Homo sapiens: one gene and its partner. The protein of the gene in region 1 purifies or fractionates together with the protein of each later gene. This does not show direct contact. Each region holds a gene or a part of one and is shown in the gene's direction. Other genes may lie near its edges.

Evidence for each region.
Region 2: the proteins of NR5A1 (region 1) and HRNR purify together in Homo sapiens (co-immunoprecipitation; one study listed by IntAct). This does not show direct contact.

The regions. Positions count from the first base shown.
Region 1 is NC_000009.12:124,500,779-124,504,431, reverse strand, and holds part of NR5A1 (steroidogenic factor 1), read left to right. Parts: intron 1-1,021; 5' UTR 1,022-1,036; coding exon 1,037-1,138; intron 1,139-1,211; coding exon 1,212-1,353; intron 1,354-3,653. UniProt on the Homo sapiens protein: Transcriptional activator. Essential for sexual differentiation and formation of the primary steroidogenic tissues. Binds to the Ad4 site found in the promoter region of steroidogenic P450 genes such as CYP11A, CYP11B and CYP21B.
Region 2 is NC_000001.11:152,211,519-152,214,289, reverse strand, and holds the end of HRNR (hornerin), read left to right. Parts: coding exon 1-1,214; 3' UTR 1,215-2,214; downstream 2,215-2,771. UniProt on the Homo sapiens protein: Component of the epidermal cornified cell envelopes.

The DNA.
Region 1 (3,653 bases):
CCGGCGGCTCTGCGTTTTCGGGCTCTCGGTCCCGGCGCCGTCGTTTTCCGCCTCCTGCGGCCCGGGCCCCCGTCTGGGTCCGACCCTGCGGGGCCTCGCCTTGGCGCTTGGGCTCCTGCCCGGCAGGTTTCCGCGCGTCCCCTGTCCCCGACCCTCGGGCTGGGCGCTTCCGCCTCCAGGTTTTCTCTCCGTGTTTCTGTAGCTCCCCGGCCTCGTCTCTCCGGGGCTCCTCTCGTCTCGGCGTCTCTGTCTGTCGTCTATCGTTGTGTCTCTGGCTCTGCGTCAGTCTCTCTTGGGTTTTCTCTTCGGGCCTCCGCTGTCTCTCCGAGTCTCTGATCCAATCCCCCACCCCTCGTTTCTCTCTCTCTCTCTCTCTCTCGTCTCTCTCTCTCTCTCTCTCTCTCTCTGTCTCCCTGTCTCTCTCCATCCCTCCCTGTGTCTCGTCCCCGCCGGGTTCTCTCTAGCTGGGCGTCTCAGTGTCTGTGTCTCTGGCACTCTCGGACTGGCCTCGTGTCTGCGCCCGGTGGCGTCGGTCGTTGTCTCTCGCCAGAGTTTCTTCCCATCTCTGGCTCCCCCGGACTCTGTCTCTGCCTCCTTCGTCTCTGTCGGGTTCCCAGAACACCCGGGCCGGGCGCCCCAGCGCTCCTGGGTCCCCTGGCGTCTTCCCCGCGGCTGAGCCCATCTCTTTTTCTCAGAATCGGGGTTTTGTTCTCAGACAAACGAATCCCAATCGAAGCGCATCGAACCCGAGGGCCCCAGATCGGGCGCGACGGGGTCCGCGCGGGAGGAGCCCCCCGGACGGGGCGGGAGCGTGGGGCCTGGCAGGGGAAGGCCGGGCGCGGGGACTGCACCGGACCCACCCCGGGACGCTGCGCGGGGCGCTCGGTGGGTGCCGGCGGCAGCGCCTGGGCACAGAGAGGGGATTACGCGACGGGCCGGCGACAGCGGCTGGGGCGGCGGCCGCGGGGACCCCAGGCTGCCGGTCTCCGCCGGCCCTCCCTGACCCGCTGTCCCTCCGCAGGCGGACGCCGCGGGCATGGACTATTCGTACGACGAGGACCTGGACGAGCTGTGCCCCGTGTGCGGGGACAAGGTGTCCGGCTACCACTACGGACTGCTCACGTGTGAGAGCTGCAAGGTGAGCGGCGAGCGCGCGGCAGGGGTGCGGCAGACGGGCGCTGCGGGGCCTCGCTGACTCTCAGCTCCCGCAGGGCTTCTTCAAGCGCACGGTGCAGAACAACAAGCACTACACGTGCACCGAGAGCCAGAGCTGCAAGATCGACAAGACGCAGCGCAAGCGCTGTCCCTTCTGCCGCTTCCAGAAATGCCTGACGGTGGGGATGCGCCTGGAAGGTGCGCGCCGCGCGGGCCTCGACCCCTGACCCCCCACAGCCTGAGGGGGTAGGGGGTGGGGGTGGGAGAGGGGCTGAGGGGATAGTACCATTGGCCTTCGCGAAGGCCCCTCGTGCGACATTAGGGCCCAGTCGCTGCAAGAGAACCGGGCGCTGGCGCTGGGTGGGCCTCGGGCGGGGAAGGGACGCTGGCAAGGCCAGCCTGGGTTGGGCTGAGAAGTATCCAAAAGTGAACCCTATGGAGATGACTCTTTCCCCAGCCCCTGCCAGGGCCCCAGCACAGGGTCGGCAGAGCTCCTCCCTCTGTGAGGAGGTCCCCATGCCCCCAAAATACCCAACCCCAGCCAGCAGAGGCCAAGTCCCAGTGCCCGCACTGTCAGTCAGGCTGGGTGACATTGGGCAAAATCCTTAACCTCTCTAAACCGCAGATTTCCCATGTGAAACATGGGCTTGGCCGGATGGAGCGGCTCATGCCTGTAATTCCAGCATTTGGGAGGCTGAGGCAAGAGGATCACTTGAGCCCAGAAGTTTAAGACCAGCCTGGGCAACATGGAGAAACCTTGTATCTATAAAATATAAAAAAGTAGCTGGGCGTGGTGACATGTGCCTGTAGTCCTAGCTACTCAGGAGGCTGAGGTGGGGGGATCACTTGAGCCTGGAAAGTCGAGGCTGCAGTGAGCTATGATCACACCACTCCACTCCAGCCTGGGCGAGAGGGAAACCCTGTCTCAAAAAATAAGTACATAAAAATAAAAAAGAAAGAAAAGAAAAGGCAGAAAGAGAAAGAAAGAAAAGAAAAATGGGCTTAACGGCAGCGCCTTCCTCCAGTGAGTGAGTGTGGGGATCGGTGCAGGCAAGCTGAAGGTGCCTAGGCGTTCATTGCCGCAGGTTAGCTGTCAAGCCCATCACGCTTTCCATTAGGATCTGCCCACCACCACCGCCCAGCCCCCACACATTCAGCTGCCCATCTGCTTGTCTGTCCGTCCATCCAAAGGGCTCTCTGGTTTATTGGCTCAGCCAGTGAGATTCCTTCCCGTCATGTTCTTAGCCAGGCCCTGAGGGGGCCGGGCAGTGGGGGACAATTGAATTGCCCCCAAGAAACCCAGGCCCCTCTTTGCCTCCCTACCCTCAACCCCAGCTCTCAGCCCAGAGAGGAGGAGGTAAGTTTTGGCAGGAAAGATTTGAGCTTCTGGAGGTGGCCGGTCACTGGACTGTGTGCTGAACAGGCAGTGGTTGATTAAGGTCTTGGAACAGTGTAGAAAGCCCCAGGTGGCTCTGAGAGTGGTGGACCACATGCCCTGCCACCTGGAGAAAGGACTCCTGGATGGGAGAGGGGACATCCTGTCCTGTCCCCAGAGCCCATGCCCCTAGTGCCAGGTCCCAAGGGGCCAGATAGCTGGCTGTTGTGGGCAGTAGAAACTCCCGTGCAGCCTGCGAGCAGCACAGCGCTGCCCACCCCAGGGGGCAGGAAGATTGGCCAGGCAGCCCCCCAGCCATCATCCCTGCTGAGCACCACCACCCCCTCTCTCCTGCTCTTTCCCCTCGCCCAGATCCCAGGGTGGGGCCCTGTCTGAGCAGGGGCGGGGGGCACACTCCAGCTGCAGAGATGTACCTGTTGGGTCTGGCTGATGACACATTCCTCGCCAGGCGGAGGAGCTTCTAGTCGGCAAGAGAGGTCCCCTCCCCCAGCATAGAGCCTTGGCCAGCTCTAAACTTGGCTTCACATTCGCAGCCAGTGAAGGATACTTGAGTCATTTTGAAGCAGGAGCTCAACAGTCAGGCAGTCAGTCAACAAACAGCTGGACCCTGGGGCCAGCGGTGAACAAGGCTGACCAGGGTCCCCTTCCGGTCACCATCTCCCTGCCAGGCCTTATGCTAGACACCTGAGCCCAGAACTTAGCCCGCAGGAGCACATGGCATGATCCACTCAGCATGATAAGAGTGGGCAAGGACAGGGCACCTGGGGCAAGGACAGTAGAGCCCGTTTGCATGAATCCAGGAGTGCTTCCTGGAAGTAGTGACATTGAGGCTGGGTGTTCAGCAAGCACAAGAGAAAAAAAAAAGTTTGAGTCAGAAGGAAAATGAAAGGCAGGGTGGAGGAGGAAGGAGATGTGTCAAACAGAGGAGTGGAGGTGAGTTCGGTGGAGTGGAAGGAGAGGGGTCTTAGCAGGGATTGCCTGAAAAGCTGAGCAGGGCCTTGAATGCCAGGCAAAGGAGACTGACTTCCCCTGTGGTCAGTGGGAGCCATGAAAGGGTGTTGAGCAGGGGAGAGAGCGGTCAGATTTGTTTGGAAAGGATCTG
Region 2 (2,771 bases), on another chromosome or scaffold:
GTGGCCCATATGAGTCTGGCTCCGGTCACTCTTCTGGCTTAGGTCACCGAGAGTCTCGCTCAGGACAGTCCTCTGGCTACGGTCAACATGGATCTAGCTCAGGTCATTCCTCTACCCATGGGCAACATGGTTCTACATCAGGACAGTCATCGAGCTGTGGCCAACATGGAGCTAGCTCAGGTCAGTCTTCCAGCCACGGTCAGCATGGCTCTGGCTCAAGTCAGTCTTCTGGCTATGGCCGACAGGGCTCTGGATCTGGCCAGTCTCCAGGCCACGGCCAGCGTGGGTCTGGGTCAAGGCAGTCTCCCAGCTACGGCCGACATGGGTCTGGCTCCGGTCGGTCTTCCAGCAGTGGCCAACATGGGTCTGGCTTAGGCGAGTCTTCTGGCTTTGGTCACCACGAGTCTAGCTCAGGGCAGTCCTCTAGTTACAGTCAGCATGGGTCTGGCTCAGGTCACTCCTCTGGCTACGGACAACACGGCTCTAGATCAGGACAGTCATCTAGGGGTGAACGACACGGATCTAGCTCAGGTTCGTCTTCCCACTATGGTCAGCATGGGTCTGGCTCCCGTCAGTCTTCGGGCCACGGCCGACAAGGGTCTGGATCTGGCCAGTCCCCTAGCCGCGGCCGACATGGGTCCGGTTTGGGGCACTCCTCCAGCCACGGCCAACATGGGTCTGGCTCAGGTCGTTCTTCCAGCCGTGGCCCATATGAGTCTCGCTTGGGTCACTCTTCTGTCTTTGGTCAACATGAGTCTGGCTCAGGACATTCCTCTGCTTACAGTCAGCATGGTAGTGGCTCAGGGCACTTCTGTAGCCAAGGACAGCATGGTTCTACATCAGGACAGTCATCAACCTTTGACCAGGAGGGATCTAGCACAGGCCAGTCTTCCAGCTATGGCCACCGTGGCTCTGGCTCCAGTCAGTCTTCTGGCTATGGCCGACATGGGGCTGGATCTGGCCAGTCTCTTAGCCACGGCCGACACGGGTCTGGTTCAGGGCAGTCTTCCAGCTACGGCCAACATGGGTCTGGCTCAGGACAGTCCTCTGGTTATAGTCAGCATGGAAGTGGCTCAGGGCAAGATGGGTATTCTTATTGCAAAGGAGGAAGTAACCATGATGGGGGAAGTTCTGGCTCATATTTTCTCAGTTTTCCTAGTAGCACTTCACCCTATGAATATGTCCAAGAGCAGAGGTGCTACTTTTATCAGTGAATAATAAACATAAATGCAATTTACTCAAGTAGCAATTTAAGAAATAGGAAAGTCATCTATGAATTCATCATGAAAGACAAGCAATCCATCATGAAATTCGTTCTAAAAGTGAATCAATGCATTTCTGTCTCTTTCTTTAGAGCCTAAAACTGTAGCATATATCTTGTTATGGGGTTCCTTCCAAAGACTGTTAGGCATTTGTGCTACTTTGTTAGAAAATACTGAGTGGAATAACTTGTTAGAATGAGGGTTAAACTTTGAGGAATAATGAAAAGCTTTTAAAGAGCTTTGGGTTTAGTTGGAGTTGTCTTTTTGAGAGCTCATCATTCATTTATAGATGGTGCCAAAGCTAACCTTACATTTCTTAGAAGCAAAATATTACAAATGCATTACCAGTCCTAGATACAAAGCTTTGTTTTACAGCAATTAGTGTACCCTAATTTTTAGTGTGCCCCAAGTTTGGTGTGTCCCAATTTTTGGTATTGTGGCAGAAGGTGAAGGCTCTGAAAGCAAAGATGCAGCAGCGGTAGTGTCTTTACTTATCAAAACCATCAAGTCCTTTTTCTTGGGTATATATTTAATCAGTAAGTTAATTAGTGGCATAAAAAAGTAGCATCAGGGTCTTTTCCCAAGCCAGTGAGCAAGAGCATTATTTCATAAAGAATAGGGATTTATCATTTCAGGAAAAAAAAAAACATTCAAATGTGGGCTTTAGCTTGTTTTCAGCAGAAAGATCTTGCTCCCTATTTCTAAGAGGCTGCTCAATATTGGGAAATATATTGAGGAGTTATTCCATGGAAATACAATGCTTTCCACCTACTACTGTAGTTCAATAACGTTTCCACCTGAAAAAATATCATCCATGCCCAGATGAAAAGGAAGAGTATCTGTCACTGCTACATAGTTCCTTAATTTGACTGTAACACATTTGTTTCAAGTCTTTGGATTCAAACAACCGGATTGTATTAAAATTGACAATAAATAAATGTTGATTAAATACTAAGACTTTTCTCATCTGTGCTTCATTTCACTTCTTACATACAGATGGTCATCCTAGAAACCAAACCAAACAGCGATTTCCCAATATTCTATTTTTCACAATGAAGAATAGATAAAGCATTCTTAAAACTCAATAAGACAAACTACTTCATTTTAAAATGATCAAAATTCCATCACACTGGTATTGGCAATGATTTTTTTGATATGACACCAAAATCACACACAATAATGTGGAGCTGTCAGCTCCATACATTTTATTGTCCCTGAAGCCCTTAGAGGGAGACAACATATGGAGGTAGAAGGCGATATTTGTCTTGGTTTAACAAAAACTTTTTAGTGTTAGTTTTAATTTTTAACAAAAAAAGTTTTTTAAAAAAATTTAAAACAGAAAAAAGCCTACAGAATAATGATGTAAAGAAAAAAATATTTGTGTTCAGCTATACAATGTGTTCGTGCTTTAAGCTAGGTGTTAATTAAGAGAGTCAAAAAGTTTAAAAATGTAAAAGTCTATAAACCTAAAAATTTACAGTAAGCTAAAGTTAATTTTTACTGGAGGAA